Regions from separate parts of the Homo sapiens genome. Here all the other regions are reported to be linked to region 1. The links are microRNA targets in miRTarBase. Many come from high-throughput screens and were not tested one by one. Region 1 holds a microRNA gene; each other region holds the end of a gene's coding sequence.
Evidence for each region. The annotated mature microRNA hsa-miR-19b-3p reads UGUGCAAAUCCAUGCAAAACUGA and lies in region 1 at 951-973, opposite strand. An mRNA with a match to its seed (bases 2 to 7 or 8) in the 3' UTR can be bound and repressed. Matches are read on the target gene's strand: a 7mer-m8 pairs with bases 2 to 8, a 7mer-A1 pairs with bases 2 to 7 and ends in A, and an 8mer does both.

Region 2: the mRNA of NUTF2 is a reported target of hsa-miR-19b-3p. The part of its 3' UTR that is shown has no 7-base or 8-base seed match.
Region 3: the mRNA of ZNF772 is a reported target of hsa-miR-19b-3p. Seed matches in the 3' UTR shown: 7mer-m8 at 782-788.
Region 4: miRTarBase lists TNIP1 as a target of hsa-miR-19b-3p. Seed matches in the 3' UTR shown: 7mer-m8 at 986-992.
Region 5: miRTarBase lists PATL1 as a target of hsa-miR-19b-3p. Seed matches in the 3' UTR shown: 8mer at 1,764-1,771 and 8mer at 1,321-1,328.
Region 6: the mRNA of VAMP3 is a reported target of hsa-miR-19b-3p. Seed matches in the 3' UTR shown: 8mer at 2,232-2,239.
Region 7: the mRNA of PRICKLE2 is a reported target of hsa-miR-19b-3p. Seed matches in the 3' UTR shown: 8mer at 2,358-2,365.

The regions. Positions count from the first base shown.
Region 1 is chrX:134,168,733-134,171,828 of GRCh38, forward strand. It overlaps MIR19B2 (microRNA 19b-2), which reads right to left and starts at 1,034; the gene lies at 939-1,034. It overlaps MIR106AHG (miR-106a-363 cluster host gene), which reads right to left. Exons shown (of 2, transcript XR_007068340.1): 1 at 2,937-3,096; 2 at 418-1,620. It overlaps MIR363 (microRNA 363), which reads right to left and starts at 720; the gene lies at 646-720. It overlaps MIR92A2 (microRNA 92a-2), which reads right to left and starts at 880; the gene lies at 806-880. It also overlaps MIR20B, MIR18B and MIR106A.
Region 2 is chr16:67,870,386-67,873,481 of GRCh38, forward strand. NUTF2 (nuclear transport factor 2) reads left to right here. Exons shown (of 5, transcript NM_005796.3): 5 at 415-2,182. The coding sequence ends at 528. EDC4 (enhancer of mRNA decapping 4) reads left to right here and starts at 2,667. Exons shown (of 29, transcript NM_014329.5): 1 at 2,667-2,958. The coding sequence starts at 2,877. RefSeq lists a silencer at 2,780-2,989 and an enhancer at 2,883-3,096.
Region 3 is chr19:57,470,529-57,473,624 of GRCh38, forward strand. It overlaps ZNF772 (zinc finger protein 772), which reads right to left. Exons shown (of 4, transcript NM_001144068.2): 4 at 1-3,096. The coding sequence ends at 2,746. Among named protein-coding and RNA genes, the nearest start is that of ZNF772, 5.5 kb to the right of the region's middle.
Region 4 is chr5:151,027,973-151,030,972 of GRCh38, reverse strand. TNIP1 (TNFAIP3 interacting protein 1) reads left to right here. Exons shown (of 18, transcript NM_006058.5): 18 at 226-1,028. The coding sequence ends at 260. It overlaps GPX3 (glutathione peroxidase 3), which reads right to left. Exons shown (of 5, transcript NM_002084.5): 5 at 1,985-3,000. The coding sequence ends at 2,843. Among named protein-coding and RNA genes, the nearest start is that of GPX3, 8.9 kb to the right of the region's middle.
Region 5 is chr11:59,635,726-59,638,821 of GRCh38, forward strand. It overlaps PATL1 (PAT1 homolog 1, processing body mRNA decay factor), which reads right to left. Exons shown (of 19, transcript NM_152716.3): 19 at 991-2,686. The coding sequence ends at 2,665. Among named protein-coding and RNA genes, the nearest start is that of OSBP, 22 kb to the left of the region's middle.
Region 6 is chr1:7,778,994-7,782,077 of GRCh38, reverse strand. It overlaps VAMP3 (vesicle associated membrane protein 3), which reads right to left. Exons shown (of 5, transcript NM_004781.4): 5 at 646-2,452. The coding sequence ends at 2,433. Among named protein-coding and RNA genes, the nearest start is that of PER3, 3.8 kb to the left of the region's middle.
Region 7 is chr3:64,096,494-64,099,589 of GRCh38, forward strand. PRICKLE2 (prickle planar cell polarity protein 2) reads right to left here. Exons shown (of 8, transcript NM_198859.4): 8 at 1-3,096. The coding sequence ends at 2,558. It overlaps PRICKLE2-AS1 (PRICKLE2 antisense RNA 1), which reads left to right. Exons shown (of 3, transcript NR_045697.1): 3 at 430-3,096. Among named protein-coding and RNA genes, the nearest start is that of PRICKLE2-AS2, 5.4 kb to the right of the region's middle.

The sequences.
Region 1 (3,096 bases):
CCACATCCAGGTTTCCATCTGCTAGACTCCAAAGCAAGGCAGCAGCCATCCCTCTCAGTAGCCCTGCCACCAAATCCTCTTCTCCGAGAACCCCAAAACAGAGTTTGATTGACAAGTTCATTCTTCTCTCCTGTCAGACCTCAAAATGTGCCCAGTTCCTTAAAGGTATGTGTCCCATTGGTTTACAACTCTTCATTCCCTTCCTAAGAATGAGCACGTGTACTAAAACAAAATTAGTACATGTCATCCAAATATTGTCAGGGTAATAAAATTCCTAAAATTAGGCATCTTGGTGCTTTATGTAGATGCAAACTTGAAAAGCAGCTATGTCCAAGTTTTCCTTTAGGATCCTCCCAAGAGATATTTTACAAACTCCTCTAGCATTGCTAATTATTTTTTTTAAAAAAAAAAGAGTCATTTTTTCAGATCTATAAATTTCATTTATTTTGAGGTTCATTCACATTCAGTAACAATCTGATCATTCACCAAAGTTCCAAAACACATACTTTATAAATTAGCTATCATAGTTTTTAGAAATCCAAATATATTTCAAATTATTTTTTAATAGCAGCAACTAGAGAAAGGATTTTTTACCATCTAGCTTACTGTAGCGCTGATCAGGAATGTCGCCAACAAAGGTCCTGCGGTTTACAGATGGATACCGTGCAATTTTTCTCCTATGATACTCATCAAAATTGCATCGTGATCCACCCGACAACAGCAAAACAGATCATTTTACAATGACTAAATATCAGAACTTACGGCTTTTAAAAGTTAAAATAAGAAGACGATAAAAATCCTCCTTTCTTCCACAGGCCGGGACAAGTGCAATACTTTATATAGAACACAAGTAATGCAACAAATCCCCACCCAGGGATGAATGGGCATGAGTGCTGGAGATACGCATGAAGGTGTGTTCACACAGACGTAGGAAGCACACATTATCACAATCAGTTTTGCATGGATTTGCACAGCCACATATACATATATACGCTGAAATGCAAACCTGCAAAACTAATTGTAAGTAGCAATGTCTTTGAATATTCTCTCCATCAACAAGAGATTTGTTATCCAAGAGTACTGGAAGTGCCCATACTACAGTAGAGTCATGCCAAAACTACCTGCACTATGAGCACTTTGGTACTACTAGGACCCAATCTTATCCTCTGTACACAACTGTACACTGCACAGTCCCCACCATCTGTTCCCAACAAACAATAAAAAGGCAAAAAACAAACCACTGAAATGTGTCCTATTCAAATTACTACTCAAGGCATACTTTTAAAATGCTGTATATTAGGCAGCCTGTGCCAGAAGGGGCATTTAGGGCAGTAGATTCTAAGCTGCTTCACTAACTGCACTAGATGCACCTTAACACAAGAGACACATTATAAGAAGCAGCTCAAAAGCATCAACTACTTAATTATGCACAAACTACAGTTCTCAGTAGCCATTGACTAAATCACCATGGTAATGTAAGAAGTGCTTACATTGCAGTAGATCTCAAAAAGCTACCTGCACTGTAAGCACTTTTACATGGCCAAGGCCTATTCCTGTAGCAAAATTTTAAGTCTTCCAGGAGCTCTTCTTTTCCGTCCTCACAGATCCATGCAGACTCACCTGGTTAAAACAACAAAACAAACACACACATATTAGAAACTAAACAAGTAAACTACTAGTTAATATTCCTGAAACAGGCTTTCCTTTGGCTTACAGAGTCTAAGCTAGGTTTTGTGGTTTCAACCAAATCCTGAGAAATATTAATAATCTCAATTATTTACACAGAATTGAACACGAATAACACTGGCAACTGCAAAAAGTCCAATTCTTATGTATAAGCAGATTTTGGACTCCCCCTCTCCATCTAAGAAAATTTGATATCTGCATCTCAGTAATTTGCAGGCACATTCTATCCACCCTGATTTTATAAGAGGAGGACCTAGAGAAAGGAGCATGTAAAACCCAGGATGAGTATTCGAGTCTTCAGATCATTCAGAGCTTTTGGGCTCCATACGGAAAGTGACTGTTAGATTAAATGAATATTCCCAGCCCCCACCCCATTAATAGAAAATGAGAGAAATTTTAGAGCTGGTTTAAGAAACACAGCCTTACAGTCTTCACATAATGCACAGATGGCTGAGAGATGTCACATTTTGATCTATTTCAAAGGGCTCTACTTCTGTTTAAACATTTATGGACCCATTTTCTCCATTAAACCAAAGTAGGCAGATTAGCTCTTCTTCCCTTCATGTCATTATCTTCCATAAGAAAACCTTCTCCCATTTCCAAGTGCTTATTTTACCTAAGAACATACAGCAAGGAAGTGAGCCTCTATGTGAAAAAGGCTCACAGGGTCCCCTATCTCTTCCATGATGGGGTAACTTTTGTTTAAAAGAAAAACAAAAACGTTTGGGACAGAATCTGTAATACGTTAAACGAGTGAGGGAATTTTAAATGTTGAACTTTCGTCACGATATCTTATGCCACTAAATGAGTCTTTAGAAGTCTTTACAAACTAAACTGATTTATAAAACTTATACATCAATCTGGAATCAATTTTCTATTAGGGAAGAATGGATTTAGTATAGAAATGAGAAAAATAACATTTTTCCCCTTAAATTGGGTTTCTACACCTGTGAAGATTTCTTTTCCATTAAAAAAAAAATACTCCAAACTTGACTCAAAATGCATAGTATTTGCCAACCCAACCTGGCCAAACTGAGCCCCACAGCCATCAGACAGGGCGCCCTTCTAGTTACTACCTTTTGCTAATTAGCGGTTCATCTGGCATCCCTCGCGCACGCTGGGCAGTCACTCTCCAATCCCCTTAAATTGCAAATAATAATAATAATAATAAGGAAAAGAAAGAAAGAAGTCCTTCCCTGTACGCCTTTGTGGCTCCCTTTTGCCTCTTCCCGCGTCTCTCACACCCTTACCTAATGCTCCCGTTGAAGTCCGCGAGCAGCCCGCGCGTCCAGGGTGTGCTCCAGCTGCTCACACCACGCGCTCCAGTCCTCGTGCAGCCTCAGCCGCCGCCGAAATTAAAGAGAAAGAAACAAAGCATCATGGGAAACGGAGTTCTCCATTCAAAGCACC
Region 2 (3,096 bases), not on the chromosome of region 1:
GATAGTGAACCTATGTTTTCAAGATTGTTTGCAGTTTTTTTGATACTCTATAAGTTACTTGGTAAATACTATGGGATTCGTTTCAAAATTGTGATCACTTGTGTCTGGAGATATGTGCTTGGAGGCAGGTACATCCTCTGCTCTTTTGCTGTAGCTAAGGGTGAATTATTGTGCAGTTTAAGCACACATAGCACACATAGGCGTGGCTGATTGTTGGCCTACATGTGCCCAGGGCATTGTTTCATACATTACATCAATTCACATTCACAAGTACCCCTTGGCTACACTGGGATTTGAGTTCAGGACAGTAGGGCCTGATCCTAAAGTCAACATTTTTTTGCCCTCTTCTCCTACCACTGAATTCCCTTCCTGTTTCTTGATCCCCTTACTGAATCCTCTTTTCTCTCCTCATAGGCGGATGAAGACCCCATCATGGGGTTCCACCAGATGTTCCTATTAAAGAACATCAACGATGCTTGGGTTTGCACCAATGACATGTTCAGGCTCGCCCTGCACAACTTTGGCTGACCTCCTCTCAGCTAGGCACTCACGCTGTTTCCTCCTCCCTCCTCTTCCCAATACTATTCCCACTCCTCCAGATGCTCCAAATATCATGCACAAATGAGCAGGGCCGCGGTGGGAGTGGGCGCAGTGCGCTGCTGCCACTGAGGTGTTGTGCATGATGTTTGGATGCTAGACTAGTTGCATCTGACGGGAGAAGTTTGTGTTGTACCAGCGCATGCCTTGGAAAGACTTAAGTAATGCAAAAGGTTGTCCTTTTTTTTTTTTTTTTTTTTTTAATCTACTGACAAGTTGCTCTAGTAACCCAAAGAAGTGAAGGAGAAAGCAGCTGCCTCACCGCCCAGACATTGATTTGTTCAGATGTTTCAATGCCTCATGATACAATAAAACCACAAAAATTTTCTTAACAGTTTAAATTGTTTTAATTAGTTTACTAGTTGGCTGGGCATCAGAAGCTACCCAGACCCGTTGTCTCTCTCATGTTTCACCCTCCCACTTCTGCCCCAACTCTGAATACCTGTTGCAGGGAGAAACTGCTGAAGCAGCACTCCCAGCTAGCCTCTCAGAAGCCGTGTAGGGCAGTTCTCTCCCACTCCACAGGGCGACTGGTCTTTGGAAAGCAGGCAGGAAGAGCTCAGGTCTGGCCTGAAGCTTCTCTCACTGAAGCCTGTGCAGTCAGTTCTGATACCTCCTGTGACTTCTGCTCTGGGTAGGTTCAGGGCCCTAGTAGCAGGAGAGATGATCCTGAATCCTGTTGAAGCTGGAGAGGCCTTGGCAAAATGGCTCATCACGTTCAGGCCCTCCGGGCTGAGTTGTCAGCAGTATCAAGGGAGGGGCCTGCTCTATCCCCAGAAGGATCAGGATCATATCCAGGATGCCCCACATACACCAAGCCAGGCAGAGGGCAGCTCAGCTCCTGTCCCATCTGCTTTGGATATCTTTACCCAAAGGCAGGTAACCCGAAGAGCCAGCCTCCACTGCCCACAGAGCCAGGCCCAGTTGTGTTGGAGTATAGGTCAGGAGCTGTGGAAGGAGGCAGTCTGTGAGGGACTCATGCTTTAGGAGTCCTCACCCCTCAGACTGCTGCAGGACATTGCCAGGCCTCTCTCCACTTCCTTCCTCAGCATACAGACTTCATGCTATCTTCCAATTCCGGGGAGTCTTAGCTATTAGGGCAGTTTCTGCTTCTCCATTTTGGGGACAAAGGCCTTGCCCAGTACAAATCTAGCCCCTTGTCCCACAGACTTCTGGATGGTATAAACCTAGTGGCAATGTAGCAACCATAGGCTAGAACCAAACCCAAGATTTGGGTCAGTGCCCTGTTAAGGGTTTTAGGATTGGTAAGGACACCACAGCTAAATCTGACATGTAAAAGGATACCCTTCCCCTGTCCCACTACGGGTGGAGGCTAAGGACCTCCTCAGATCCCACAGATTGCCTGGTGACATTGGGCACAGGGCTGGATGGTGTGCTGTTTGAGAGGACAGCATGCTCAGGAGATTTCAGTGGGAATGATCTCTAGGCTGATGTGTATTTGGGGAAGTGGGGGTGGGGAAGAGGTAGGTGCCTGCTGCCTCAAACCACCTTGTGTAAAATCTGCAATACGGCTTCTTCCATGTACCTGTGCCTGAACTGTCTGCAATAAAGAAGAATTTGTAAACTGTGGTTTCTTTCTTCCAACCTGAGGGTGCCAGGTGGGACAAGGGGATGCTGGGGGACAGTAGGGAACAATGACTGGTCATTGTAGTGGGATCATCTCCCCTGCTCTTGCAATTCCTGAGTTTTATGACCTCGAGGGTAGCCTCAGGCCTTGAGTTATTCCGACCCATTCCCAAAGGGAACCTGAGGCACCTGCCAATTCAGCATATTCTGGGGGTCTGAGGGACCTTAGCATGGGCGGCTAAGTTGACCCCGTCCCAGGACCATCGGAGTCCATGCTCTGGGAGTGGGCAGGGACCTGGCGCCTTCTGAGTCGAGTAGGGCTTTAGGTGGCCCAGTGCGTGGACGCTTACTTCAGCCCCGTGGGACTTTCCTGACCTCGCGGACACAGGGGCGGGGCCGCCGAGGGGGACTGGCTGCGGGAGGGGTTTAGGCTTCCGCCCCCAGCCCGGAACCTTTCTTCTCCGGCCCTGGCAGGTTCCGGGAGCCTCGGCTCGTGGGTGCCGGAAGTGGAGGCGGTTGGTGGGGTTGGCGGGGCTCAGCGACGCTGCGCGGGTGGCGGTTTGCGAACTGCGGGTGGACTGTGTAGTGACCGGCGTCCCGCTGTCTCGCCCCGTGGCGGGTGAGCGAGGGTGCGTGGTGCGCGGCGGCGGCGGAACGAACGCGGTGCGGGCGGGGCGCCCGCCGCAGGGCCCATGGCCTCCTGCGCGAGCATCGACATCGAGGACGCCACGCAGCACCTGCGGGACATCCTCAAGCTGGACCGGCCCGCGGGCGGTGAGCGGGGGTTGCGGGGGTGGGCCCCAGGCGAGCTGACAAAAGGGCGGCGCGCGTCTGAACCGCCATTGGGGCCCACAGCTCCCTTAGGACTAGCTCTGGATCCTCCCGGCGGGTAAGGGTGGACGGGGATTGACT
Region 3 (3,096 bases), not on the chromosome of region 1:
CCAATAAAAGCGGAAGGCATTAGTAAAACTCAAAATGGAAAAGAAAAATCCCAAAATATCAGAAAACAGAAAATTCAATAATACCAAGTACTTTAAGATCAATAAAATTGTAAAATTGATAAATCTCTACCCAAACCAATCAAGGTTAAAAGAAAAATATAGACATTACCAGTATCAGGAATAGAAGAGGTTGCACCACTACAAATTCTACAAGTATGAAAATAATATTTTGAAAAATTTGAGTACTTAAATAAAACAGAAAAACTCCTTGAAAGACACAAACCATCAAAGCTCACTCTAGAGATAGATGGATGGATGGAGTGACAAACAGATGGACGGACAGACAGATGTATATATAACTAGTATAGCCCTCCATCTACCATGGAAATCAAACTTGTAGTTAGATGCTGTCCTACAAAACACACTTCAGGGCCAGAGTGACAGACAGACAACACACACACAGACAGATGTACATATAACTTGTACAGCCCTCTATCTACCACAGAAATCAAACTTATAGTTAGAAACTTTCCTACAAAACAAACTCCAGGCCCAGACAGCTTCCTTGGTGAATTCTACCAAACATTTAAGGAAGAAATAATACCAATTATTCACAAACTCTTCCAGAGAGCTGAAGAGCAGGAATACTTCCCAACTTACTCTATAAAGCTGGCATTATGCTGATACCAAAGCCAAACCTGGGCAAGATATAAAATTACAAAGAAAAAAAAGCAAGCAAGCAAGAAAGAAAGTTAGGGACAAATATCACTCGTGAACATTGGTGCAAAACTTGTTACAAAAAAACAAAACAAAACAAAACAAAATAGCAAATCAAATTCAACAATATACTAAATGACTAATACATCATGACCAAATGGGAATTATTACAGAAATGCAAGGTTGGCTTAACATTTAAAAAAATCAGTCAATGTAATTCATATTAAACAACTAAAACAGAAAAAGAAAAAAACCATATAGGATTATGGTCACCAGAGTCCAAGAAAACGCCCCACAAATCCCTATTTTCACCTTTGTGTAGTTCTCTTCCACTTTTAACCAGGATTAGCTAGGGTTACTTATGAAATATAGCAGAAATGACGGCTCATCACTTTCAGTTTAAGGTAATGACAGATACTGTGGCTTTGTTCTTGTGTGAGTTCTCTCCTGGATCACTTGCTTTGAAACTATTTCTCTACAATGGAACACTCTTAGCAAAGTACAAATGAAAAGAAATGAACTATGAAACACAGAACACCACCATGAGCCTTAATTTCAGAGTTTAAGAAGCCAAAAACATTAGAATACATATTAAATTACTCTATCTCTGTAGAATTCTAGGAAATACAAACAAATCTACAGTGACAACGGATCAATAGTTGCCTGGGGATGGGTGAAGGAAAGGGAGAAAATATAAAAGGAATCAGGAAACTTTTGGTTTGAGAAGTGCCAACATGTATCAAAACTTATCAAATGGTACACTATAAATATGTGCAGTTTATTGCAAAAATGTTTAGACTGACTTCTGGACAGTAACCTTAGCCATAAGAGACACAGGTATGGAAATATTTCTGTAAACCCTCATAATGGAGCCAGAGTAATGGAAACACATGTGGATGTACCTTTAGAAGGGTCATATTCCCTATAGTTTGCTGCAGTTTTCTCATTCCTTTATTAATCTGGGTTTCTGCACCAACTATGATTCCTACCTGGGCCTTCTGGAGGACAGCCAATATCAACTGCCTACTGAAAAATAGACTTCAGAGATCTTGACATGTCCACTGAGTTCAAATTCTCCTCAAGAAGCCTTGGGAATATGAAGTATCTTCTGGGAACAAGGGACGTAATTCATGTTGCTCCCAGACACATTAGAGATTATCACAACAAATGCCCACTGCTTAGGGTGACCTCAATTACACAAAAAATCTTAACATATAGACCAAAAGATTAGGCCTACAAAGACTGGCATTCTTTCCTAGGAGAGCTGAAGCAGTCAAGTAAGTTAGCTTGACACTAGCATAAGAGCTAGTCTTTGCCATCCTACTATCACTTCAGAGATACAGATAGTTGGAGCTCTCACAAAAGCTGTTCTTCCCTTCATACTGGCTTAGCTCAATTCTGTTCTCAACCCAACCCACAAAGCGAACAGAATCCTCAAGATTTCAGATAGTCTAAAAATTAAGGCATTTGTTGCAAAACCAGAATATGAGGCAGCCAATTTCAGGTCAGGTGTCTTGAAGGCTAGAAAAATTCGTCCCAAGTGCCATGTGAGATCAACTATATCCATGAAGGGAAACCTCTGCCAGTGGTCAGCAGAACAAAGCTCCCATTTTTCTGGCTAAAACTGGGTCATGCTCATGCTTAAACCAGTAGTGGGGCAGAAAAAAAGTGAGAATCCTTGATGGCCTCAGGCTACTGATGATTCCCTCCAGGGAAGGGAATAGTACAGAGGTCTGTCTTTTGAAACACATTGGGGTTACTTTGGCACAAGGCAGGACTCTTCCAGCACAAAGACAGATGGCTTCTAACAGGCACTGCCTTGACGAAATTCCAGCAAGAGTCTAGAAAATTCAGCATAGCTCCAGAAGGCTTCCCATATAGCTGGCACTCGGAAGAACCTCCCCAGGGTGAGTGTTTGAGTGTATAAAGTTCTACTTCTGGCTGTCGGCTACACATAAAGGCTATGCTTGGAGCTTCTCTCTGATGTCAGTTATTATGTTGAACAAGGAAACGGAATTATCTCCCATCCTAAGGCCTTTCTCCAGTGTGAATTTTCCAGTGGCGGATGAGGGAAGCCCTCTGCCTGAAGGCCTTCCCACATTCACTGCACTTATATGGCCTTTCTCCAGTGTGAATTCTATGATGCTGAACAAGTACATGTTTGTGGCTAAAGGCTTTTCCACATTCACTGCACACATAAGGCTTTTCACCATTATGAACTCTTTGATGTGCAATAAGGTCAGAGCTTTGGCTAAAGAACTTCCCACATGCGATGCACTCATAAGGCCTTGCTCCAGTATGAACACTCCAATGTTTAATGAGTCTGTATTTGTGACCAAAGTATTTTCCACATTCGCTGCACTCATATGGCCTTTCTCC
Region 4 (3,000 bases), not on the chromosome of region 1:
TAGTGTCCCAGTTCCCTCTTTTACAATGGGATAATAACCTGCCTTCTTCATAGGGCTGGGTGAAGATTACATGACCAGCGTACTTAAGGTACTTAGCCCTGGCACTTGGTAGCACCCAGTAACCCTAGCTGTTATTTTCACTGTTCCTGCACTGCATTCCATAAGAGACTTTGAAACTCGCTCTACCACATAATCATGAAGTCCTCAAAATTTTTGTTTATTTAGAGTCTCCAAAAAATGACCGTGAGGGGCCTCAGTGAGACCAGATTGTGTCATTTGGCTCCACCTTCATCTTGCAGAGCCAGCTGATCTCAGATTGCCAAGAAACTAGAAGCCACTTGCACGGTGTGGCCAGAGCCTCAGCTGGATGAGAGGCTGAGATGGGTGGCCAGCTTGTACACCAGTCCCTGAACTGAGCTGTTTACAGGACTGGGGAGGCTCCACCCAGAAGGCTTTCATTTGTACTCTGCTGGGAGTGACTGGGAAAAACTCCTTCCCTGCTGCTGAGTGGAGAGAGGCCTCATCCGGCTTTGACCCACCATCCGTTGCAGAAGCCTCCAGGAGCAGCAATCCTAAGAGTGGGAGGCAGCCAAGACCCCCTTCCTTCAAAACCTCCCGGAAGTGGTTTCAGGCCCTCTAGTTGCCATGACCAATTTGTGTGTGTGTTTAATTTTTGCTTCAAGCTCTGTAGCAGGACCTGCCCCACGCACACCCCTACCCCTCTGTGAGGAGCTGTGGGAAGTGTGGGTTTGTCTCCAGAACAGAAGAGAATGATGGATATTCTGGCTCTGGGGCCCTCTCCACCACCACTCACAGTAGCCTTGCTGAAGCCATCACAGATGGGAGAAGGCCATGCCAGCCACGTCCGCCGAGGGGCGCCAGCCTGAAGCTGCCAGGCCCTGAGGTTCAGACCCTGGACCCCATAGCTGGAGGCCTGTGGTGCCAGAAGCCCAGATTAGGGTGGCTGTCCATCCCTGGATAGCTATTTGCACGAATCATGGACATAAATCCAAGTTGAAGAAGATCAACATTCTGACTCATGTTCATTTATGCGCTAATGTTCCCCTGTCAACCCCCTGCTTTCCTGGGTCCCTCCTTCTGTTCCCCTTTTCTTCCTTTCCCTGAGATGGTCACCATTACTCTTGAGTAATGGTGACGTATCAGGGCCTCCCTGAGGGTAGGGCAACCGGGGCAGTGGAAGGAGCCTAGGCCAGGACTCAGGGGACTTGGGTTTAAATTCCAGTCCTGCCCCTCACTCATCAGGAGACCTGGGGCAAGGCGTGGCCCTTCTGTGAGCCTCAGTTTCCTCATCCGTCAAACAGAACACCTCATCTTAACCTCAGCTGACTTGGAGAACTGTGGGAGGGAATGAGAGTAGATCAGAACTGGTTTTATAAACTCCAAATGCTGAGTGAGAGAAGCAGAGTGGGCCAAGGTAGGAGCCAAAAAGCAGGGACTCAAAGCATTGTCTAATTTCTCTCTTTTTTTTTTTTTTTTTTTAAGAGACAGTCTGACTGTGTTGCCCAGGCTGGAGTGCAGTGGCTCTTCACAGACTCAGTCACGGCACACTATAGCCTCAAACTCCCGGGCTCAAGGGAGCCTCCCACATCAGTCTCCCAAGTAGCTGAAGGAGTGCGCCACTGCAGCTAACTATCAGGTTGTTGAAAAAGTAATTGCAATTTTTGCCCCTTTTTTGTGGCAGGGGGGCCTCCCTCATGAAGATGCCACCCCTAATAGGGCTACATGGCCCTTGCAGTCTGCCTTGGCTGATCTCAGGGAGAATTGTGGGGTGGGGAGGTAGCCTTGGATTTTGCCATATGGCGAAAACCGCAATTACCTTTGCACCCACTGTAAAAAGTTTTTGTTGTCATATTTGTTCTTTTCTCATCCTCCCCCCTTTACCCTGCCCCACCTTCTCCTCCTCACTTCCCACCCAGGCGGGGGCGGCCACCATTGAAGAAGCACCACACACAGTAGGCTCAGCTGCTGCAGAAAGGCTTTTACTGGGCAGACGGGGTGAGTCTCAAGCCAGTGGACCAGTGAGGGGTGAGGGCACGTCCTCCGAAGGAGCAGGGGTGGCATCCCTGCCCAGGGGCCTTAGCCTGAATGCACTAAGGGCTGGCCCCTCAGACAGGCTCAGGGGAGGTCCGCCCACAAGGGCTTTGGGCCCCTCCCTCATGAAGACGCCACCCCTGCCATGGGGTCCGTGGCCCTTGCTGTCACATCTGCCTTGGTTGATCTCAGGGAGGTTGATCTCTCTCAGGGAGAACTGTGGGGTGGGGATGTAGCCTTGGGAGGGCCCTTCAGGAAGTAGGAGTGGGGGGTTGGGGAGTGTGGTAGACCCAGAAACTTCTGGGGACGTCAGTCATAGTTACTAATATTTGGAGGCAGTGGGAGATGCTGGCCCCAAGGTTGAGGTATCAGTTAGAGCAGAACAATTGGACCTAGAGCTGGTTTTTCCTTTGGGTTTAGGTGTAAGTGAACTATTATCATTGGAGTGGAGAACTGGAGAGAAAGGGTTGTCACTGTCCAGCACTACACAGCTGCAGGCACACAGATGGTACACATTCCCAGAAAGACACATAGGTAGACACGTGGCTGTACACCCATGCACACACACACAATCACGCATACCTGTAGGCATGTGTGTAAACACCCACATGCACCCACACCCACATGCCTGGCAGTACACAGAACTGTATGCATCCATTTGTGCCAGGCTGGGGCCTTGAGTGATAGGAAAGGGGTCTGTGATGGGTAGATAGTGTGGTTGGAGACACGGATTTCTTCCTGAACAAAGTCCCTCCCCTACATGGTGGACATGGGATGAGACGGCCTTCAGTTACTTCCTCTTGACCCCCAGGGCTGCCTGCCGCCTCATGTAGGACAGGATGTCCATCTTGACGTTGCTGACCGTGGTCCGGTGGTGCCAGCGCATGATGGGTATACCATCTGGCCCCACCAGGAACTTCTCAAAGTTCCAGCGGATGTCGTGAACCT
Region 5 (3,096 bases), not on the chromosome of region 1:
ATGGCACCCGCCTGTAGTATTCCCAGCTACTTGGGAGGCTGAGGTGGGAGAACTGCTTGAGCCTGGGAGGTAGAGGCTGCAGTGAGCCATGATTGTGTCACTGCACTGTAACCTGGGTGACAGAGAAACTCATCTCAGAAAAAGAAGAAAACCTTCAGGCTGAGTGCAGTGATTCACACCTGTACTCCCAGCATTTTGGGGGGCCAAGGTGGGAAGATCACTTGAGCCTGGGAGTTCAAGACCAGCCTGGGCAACATAGGGAGATCCCGACTCTACAAAAAGTATAAAAATTACCCAGGTGTGGTGGTGCACACCTGTAGTCCCAGTTACTCGGGAGGCTGAGGTGGATCACTTGAGCCTGGGAGATCGAGGCTGCAGTGAGTGGTGATTGTGCTACTGTGCCACTACACTCCAGCCTGAGTGACACAGGCCCTGTCTTGAAAACAAAACCCCACTTTTTTTTGCCCCTTTCTATGTGTTTGCTGAATCTTTTATCTTGAGCATTTTAGAGTAAAAATGATACTCAAGTCTGAAATAATAAAAATAAATTCACTATAAAGAATGACCAACCTTTTCCCATCTCCTTTGAAGAGATGAGTTTTGAAATACAATATGCTCAGAACTAAGTAAATACTATCCATGAAGGCAGCTGAATGCCTCATTGGGCTACATGAGTCTCTTAAAGGGGGACAGATTCCTCAATGCCTAGAGATGGGCAGGATGGAGAAGACAAACTACAGTTTATCTACTACAATTTATAATTTTGTCGTACAGTTAAAATGGGGGGAGGAGAAACTGAAAGCATCTTAGATTTTTAAAGACAAGTTATTATATAAAAATATTTGTCTTCTTTGCAACAAAATTAAAAAGGTAAAAATATAGGTAATAATATCTTTAATCCCCTACATCAAGAAGTTGACAGTCTATCTAAATATGCTAGAAACATAAAAATCATATTCAGAGGTAACAAAGTAGAAATGCAGGCACTCATTTTTAAGTATACAATTTGTTTTTATTTACAATACCCTATAAAAATGTAAATTTAGAAACTTTTATTTTCATTAATTAGAACCAATCCAAACAAAAAAGATAAAGCACAGTAAGGAAGAGATAATAATCAAGTATTCACTTGATTGGTTGTGAAGGGAAGGTAGGAAAGGCATGTAGTGGAAATGGTCAGTAGACAACGGTAGAGGGAAGCTAGGTAACATCACTGGGGAACAGCTGGTGGAGCCTGGGGTTACAGCATGGGAAGAAATGGAGATGGAGAACAGGACAGCTGGTTTTAACAGAGGATCTTACTGTTGTACAATACATGTATGTGCAAAATGTTTATTCTCTTTAAATACCATAACCTGTCCCTCCCACCCCCCAACTACATTCGAAAAAGTAAGAACAGCAGAAAGATCACGAAGGCCATGTAAAATTAATTCAGATTTAATTTTCTTCAGGGCTGTAATCACTAGGGATCAAAACTCCTTAGTCTGGTTGATTGCTGAATGGGAGAGGAGTAAGTGAGAAAGATCATGGCAGGCTGGCCCTGCAATTATTCAAACCCAGGCCCCTGGCTGCCTGGGAACGGGACTTGGGTGAGATGAAGTAGTAAAGACAGCAGTTCTGCCCATGGTGTGGAGACTAAAAAGCAAAGCAGGCCAAACTTAGCTTCCATGGTTACATTTGGAAGTTTCTATTCATGACACCAAATAAAAGTGGGGAAGAAGGAAGCATGGCTTACTGAAGTAGTCTCAGGAAGACAGGGCAAGTGTGCAAAAAGCCACACTGCCAAAGCAGGCTACTAGTGAGGATCATCCTGGGTGACTTCGAATGCACTTGAGGGGAAAGGCTCAAGTACCCTGTAGTTGTAGCAGGAAAAAGACATAACCATGTGTTGTTTCGATTAAGGTGGACAGAAACTAAGGAAATAAAGGTGGGAAGAAGAAAAAGGACTTCTCAGCCTAGACCTGGGCATAAGCCAATTAAGAGTTCTGATTTTATTAAACGTGCTGCATACTCTTTATTTATGTTAAAACAAGTAGAACCCACCAAATTAATTACAAGATAGAACAGAAACAGATTAAAATACATCAGCTGGTTTGTGTTTAGAAGAGGTAATGAGACAACTAAATATTTTTCAATCTAAAATTCATTCTTTAAGGACCCTCTGAAGACCACATAAATACATGTATGGGGTGTGTGTGTGTGTATCTATGTGTGTGTGTATATCTTGATTTCTACTTAATTGGCTCTTCTATAGTCATATTAATATGGGGCAATGAAAAAACAACTTCAATAGGATGAGGGAAGGAATCCTTTGGCAGGCTACAATCTACTCTGAGGTGGAGTAGTGGAGGGATAAAGGGAGAGATTACACTTGTGTCTCTAGGGCAAAGAAAATGCAAAACAGAACTGAGTAAAAGTAGGACATGCAGAACTGTAACACAGAAGGTAAAGAAACCAGCAGAAGTATCACCCAGCCAAATTTCATAGAGCAGTGGGGAAATATCTGACATTTAGAGAGACAACCCCTGTAAACAGGAATCGATCCCACAAGACTTTGCTTTGGGGAAAAAGCTACCTTCCTTCCCTCATTAAAAACACTCCATTGGTGATGGCAGCAGTGCAGGTGGCAGCCAAAAGGAGGTACAGGACACATTTGGAGATCTTTTATCGTATCCCCTGAACTAGCCTAGGAGTACAAAGGAGAGAAAGGAAAATTGTATAAATGAGTTAAAACAGAAGGCAATCTTTCATATTACAGTTACATCTTTGTAAGACTTCTCATAACAAAATACCCGAGATTATTTCTCTACCCTTAGCATTTGGTCATCTTTTATGAAGGCCCTGTTGTACCCAGTTCAGTGTTTTATATCTAACAGATACACAAATAGTTAATAAAAAGTCAATCTCTTCCACCAAATTCAGTTTTATTCCCCCCTCCACCCCAATCATAACTTCTTTTTATTTATTTTTTTTGAGACAGGGTCTTGCTCTGTCACCCAGGCTGGAGTGCAGTGGCGTGATCTCAGCTCACTGCAATCTCTGTCTCCCGGGTTTAAATGATTTTCATACCTCAGCCTACCGAATAGCTGGGATTAC
Region 6 (3,084 bases), not on the chromosome of region 1:
TGGAGTACCTTGCTTGGAGAAGAGAGAGCTGGAGAGTCGTGTGACATGAAGTCAGAAAACTAGAAAGGACCAGATCATCGTGGGACCTGTAATTCGGGAAAGGGACTTGGATTTTCCTATTGTAAACATAAGCAAAAGTCCTCTTCCACCCGTATTATATTGTTTCCTAGGGGTTCTACGATAAGAATGGAAATACATTCATGAGGAAAAAAGGATCTACAGGAACAGAGCCATGTGTCTGGGGATGTCCCTCACCTATCCACTCATCTATCCCAGGGTCCATGCCAGCAGCCATCTAGTCTACCACAGACGGGGTCGGCTCTGCACATCACTTTAGAAAGACCATCTATTTAGGGAACTCCAAAGCCACATCCTGAATTTTGGTAATTGTGTAAAAGCCAGTTTCCTCCTCATCGCCTATACTAAAAAGCACTTTTCACAAGGGGAGCGGTTTTCTTCTGTTCACTGGGGTATGCGGAAATGCTGGGTACCAAAAGGGTAGAGTACCTAGAGAGGGGCTGGTGAGAAAAGGGGGAGACAGTTTCGGGGCTTCTAAGGGACAGGTATGGGGAGCAGCAAGGAATGGCATTTTTAGGACTCGGACCAGGTGCAGCTATTCCTCTACAAGGAGCACAGGTGCCACAATCATGTTTATAAACACTTTATTTAGGTGATTACAGTGGGTAAGTTCCCAGCTAAGTGCACAGATAGAAGCGAGGTATTTCTGGGTTAATGCAGGAGCCAGTGGGTTACATGGGTCTGGGCACTGTGGCCAAGGGGCGAGTACCAAGGTTTCTGAGTCAGACCCGGCCAGAGACCCTGCGCTGAAGGTGGACTAATGTCCTAACACTGCCAGCTGCTTTCTCCTCACAGCTGGCCACACCGCAAGGCATCTCTTCAACAGTAAATCATTTCAGCGATGTTAAGGGAACAGACGTTAAAGAAATGGAAGCTGTGTCCTGGTGCGCCTCAGCTGTTGCTGCTTTATAAGTCATAATAGCATGTGAACAAGAGTTTTAGAATATTCCAGTAACAATGAGCCACAGAGCGATAAAGTCTGTGTCTTTCTCCCTCAGTGCCTCCTTGCCTGTTTTCTTTCATACCTGAATTCCCATCTTTAAGCTGTGGATCCTGATGTTGAGTCTCATGCATACAAGAAAAGTTTTTCCGATGACAAAGTTTCTGCTTCCAGCATTCCCATCAACAGCATTCTCTGCAGTTGATGATATCAAAGCAAAGGTCTCTGGTTGGCTACTCTCTGTGAAAAGAGCCATTCACCCCTGACCAATGCCTAATTGCAGGCATAATTTAGAAAACTGATTTAGGAAGCAGAATGTGAATACAAATAGGAAACAAACTCCAAAGTTATAGTTTATCTTCATATTTGGGCCAGATAATGATCAAGTTCACAGGTGGTCTTACTTGAGGCTACAGAATTGTTGCTTGCATAATTATCAGAAACATGCTGGAGTCCACAGCTGATAATCTGCCAACTGCTGGGTAGAACTCTTTTATGAGACGGTCAGAGTCTACCTCAAACCTTCTCTAACCCCCATGCAAAATACTGAATCAGAAGGGGAGCCACACTGTCTACAGCCTTTCAAAAGGAAGAAAGGCCTATGAAGATGTAGAAGGTTCACACACAAGGTAATGATTTTAATTCTGAAGGGGCACCTTGAGTTCCATTTGGCACGTTTCTGAATTTAACTGTCAGGAATACACTTAAGGCCATTTTATCGGTATTTAACTTTTTGGCAAAATAGAAGCTTTGGTCATAGCCATAGTTCTTTAAAAATTTTTTTAAAGAGGTTATCTCTGATTAAAACAATATTTTTAGCAAGTGATACATAACAATAACAACAATGTAAACATCTTCAAATCTAATGCAAGAGCAAAAGCTCTTCACCAGCATCTTAAATACAGCGAGAGTCAGTAGTGCTTACAAAAAGTAGAGGGTTCTCTTCTAGGGAATCAGAAAATTATCAAAATAAGGCACAGCCTGTTGTTATCACAGATTTGTGTTAGGCAGTAGTGTTTTTTTCTGGAAGGCATAAGTTGGAAATCTGATTACCCAAAGGTTTAAAATGTGGTTCTGAAAATAATGCCAAATGACAAGGGTAACTAACTGGGAGTAATGGCAATTAATTAGTGACAACATTACATCTAGATTATAGCACTCTGGAACTTAAGAAGGCCTCTTCATCAGCCCATACGTAAATCTGTAAAGGCACTGTGCAAAATGTGGACGGGGCCGGCCTTCTAATTTGGAGTGCATATTAAAAAACAAAGGCACGTTTCCTAGAAATTCAACTTTACATTAACACAAAAAAAATTTTAGAGATAACAGTAGGTAAGCTTGATAATATAGCAGGTTCTAAGTCAAAAGTCTTGAAGAGGTTTCTTGAACAGCAGTTTTGAGTTCCGCTGGTTCTTCATGAAGAGACAACCCACACTAAGAAGGAGGAGAGATGCAAAAAGGCAGGGGAAACAGCAGGTTAGTCTCTCAGTGTGAATCCCAAGCCAACATCCAATGCTGCAGTCTAAATGTGATCAGAAATTAGACTGGGCTGATTTCCTACTACTGGCTTCTCTCCATTCTATAGAGGGCTAGAGGAAGGAGACTAGAGTCAAAAGGATCCAAGTAACTGTACCTTCCTGCTAAAAGGAAACATCCACTAACATCCATCTATCAATGAAAGAAGTCATGTTTCGGTTCTCATATACTGGGCTACCGATGGCAGTGAGTTGTTTGAATATTATATAATAATAGTTGTGTGTGTGTTTGTGTATACATATATATTATTTATATAGCTATTATTTTTATTATTATATGCCAGGCACCAACCTAAGCAATTTTTATTTATTTTATTTATTTATTTTTTTGAGACGGAGACTTGCTCTGTCACCTAGGCTGGAGTGCAGTGGCATGATCTTGGCTCACTGCAAGCTCCGCCTCCCGGGTTCATGCCATTCTCCTGCCTCAGCCTCCCCAGTAGCTGGGACTACAGGCGCCCGCGACCACACCCGGCTAATTTTTTGTATTTTTAGTAGAGACGGGGTTTCACCGTGTTAGCCAGGATGGTC
Region 7 (3,096 bases), not on the chromosome of region 1:
TGGCCTTCCTCATTCAGCATTCTCTGTAAGGTTGCATTTGGGGTCAGAAGAAATCTGCAATGGTAGAATTGAGGGAGGTAATCTTGCTAGTAGACAGTTTTACCCTGAAGCTTGTATGTCATTTCATCTCAAGCTCTGAGCAGTTCAGTGCCTGGATGCTCTCTGGGCATCTAGACTTATGCCTCCAGACCCCTCCGGGCACTGGCCATGTGTCAGTTTTTAGGCCACCTTCTTTCTGATGATGGTGGTTGAAGCTTTCTTTGAGAAAGGTAAGAGGTATTCTGAGAAAAACAGAGTTAGGAAGCAACTTTTACTGGGAGAATTTCTTTCACTGGATTTGGGGCCACAGAGGACAGACATATTTTCAACCGTTTGCTAAGATAAGTGATCTACTTTTCCCCCTCTCTTTTTCCAAAATTGCCTTTTTAGTTTCATCAATCAAGGAACTTAAAACTCCAAATTGGACTCGCACAATTTCTACCAGAAACCTGCCACTTTAGTAGCACGGTATTGCAAATTATTTCTTAATCAGTTTGCCAAGCAGTTTACAAACTTACTATACAAACGTAATAGAGTTAATTCTCCGGAGGCTCGGATAATTAATGAAGCATTTAGATATGAAGATAGCATGCGGAAAACAGCCACAACCAACATGTGCATTGCTTTTTTAAAAAAATCAGTGACAATGACAAATGTCATATTAATACCTGAAAAGCAAATTATTTTAATACATCCCGAATGGAGTGCCATTACCATGTCCTTTACAGCCTTCCTTTCCTCAGACCCATCTGGGACGGGGTCTGAAATGCCACTTTTGACATTCTCTCCATAAAAAATACTAGAAAATGTTAACTACTATACTGAAAAGAGATCACGCTCACCTCACCATGGCAGATGGCCACTGAGATACACCGGGCACTACATCGACAGTACATCTCACTACAGGTGGGTCATCCGATGGATTATTTCAACTGCCACAATCCATTAAGGGGAGGAGGAGGATGGAAGAAACCAAGTGCTTCATTTTTAACTGAAGCAAGGTAGGGAGTTTTATTTTACTATAAACAGCACAACCGTTAAATGTCTTCATTAAGCAAACTCACTTTTGAGCCCATTTTCTGACCAACAGTCCTCAAAGTTCAAAATGGAAATACCCTCCCAACAAAGCCTGTTTTTTTAAAGACATTGCACCACTGAAATCTCAGCAGCTCAACCTTCCTGGGTAATCCAGATACTCTGGTTACTAAGCTGGTTACACTGGACTCTTTCTACAATCTCTGGGAGCTCTTCGAGGTGGTTGTCACCTGTCCTCTGTTTCATTTCCAGTTCTTCTTTTCCCTGACCTGCCTTCAGATTCTCCTTTAACTTCTACCCTTGACCTGCCTTCTGTTTTCAAATAGCCTTGTTCCTTCTCCAGGCATGACATGTCACACACCGTCCCTCGCAGAGCCCCCTCAGAATCCTTCTGTCCCTCAATCCCAAATGCTTAAGTTCATTTGCTTTGAGGACAACCGGTTGTCAGGCTAAGGCAGCAGTTCTGTCTGCCTTGGTAAAGGAAAGCAGATAATACAATCCAGGAAACATGAGCACCAGAACATAATGCCACATTCAAAACAACGTCATGCTGACATCACACAATGGCACCACTCACAGTCACTTTTACTTTCCCCAAGGGATAGATCAACATTAAGTAACTTCAACATTCCCAGCAGGGATGGCATTTCTCACAGAATTTTACTGACACCGGTTGGTTTCTCTAATTGGCAAAAATTACATTTGCAATTTAAAAAAAAATTACTACCACTTTGTAGAAAATAAATTCTACTGAGGGTGGGAGCAGACTTAAGGATGGCTCCTTAAGATGGAACGGAGCATAAAATGCTTTGGGTCTAACAGTTATGTTTTTTCAGCCACAAAAAGCCAAATTGAATATGTTCCTTTGAAAAAGGTCTCACTGACATGTAACAAATTTGTATAGAAAAAAAAAAAAAAAAAAAAAAGGTGGTACCGGGCCACATTTCAATACTACTCAGAGACAATGGTGGATGTGCATGCAAGTCCCCACTGAGTCCTACGATATAGAAATTCCTTTGATATTACAAAATACAAAAATATTTTATCAGAACTCTCATTTACATTGCATTTACAATGGACATGTAAATAACTTAGTCTTGGGTCCTGGCTAATAAACAAATTACTTACTGAAAAAAGGGTCCTAAAAGTAAGAGAACCAGAGAGGATAAAAGCGAGCAGGAAACAATTTACCATCTTGAGAGATGGCAACTCAACACAGAACTGATGGGAAGGAAGTGACCAAGCCTGGCCTCGATAGAGTCTACTGTGTTTCCAAAGTGAAATGTGCAAATAATATTCAACATGCCAAGAACTGTGACTACCTATTGAGTCAACCTGTAACCTTGCCTCCATCTACTGACAGCATTTTCCCTTTTCTCCCCCATAAGCCACCCCCAAAAGCGCTTTAACATTTAAAACAGTGCAAGTTTCTGACTTTACATTCTTAGCTCCCATCTTCTCCCATTCCCTGATCCCAATCATATTAAGAAATGATACAGTTTTTGCTCTTCTGTCTTTTCCTGCTGTGCAACTGTCCTCTGCCACCTAATGTGGAAGATTTGGGGAGGCCGTAGGAGCTGTATTTGTGCAGCAGCTCATCGCTTGTGACGTATCGCAGGCGCGCTGGCTGGGGGATGGGTTCTCCTAGGAAATAGCCCTCGTTGTCAGACTCTGAAGAGGAGGAGCAGGTGGAACACCAATCATACTCGGCGAAGTAGGGTCCCCAGCGGTCCCCAAAGGCATTCTGCAAAGCCAGGTCCGACACAGTCCTAGGGCACTGGCCGTACAGGTCCCTCCGGGACCCATGCCCCATGCTCTCCTGGAAGCTCCGCTGGCGCATAAATTGGTCATAGTCCTCCCTGGCTCTCAGAGGGGGCCTATCTTTTAACCGGGAGATGGCCTCGCGTTCGCTGGCCAGGTGGAGGGCGTTGTCGGAGCGAGAGCGTCGGGAACGCCTGGACCTGTGAGGTCGGAAACGGCGGTTGTCGTCGCGTGAAGTAGCTCTTCTCCGGGTGCGTTCAC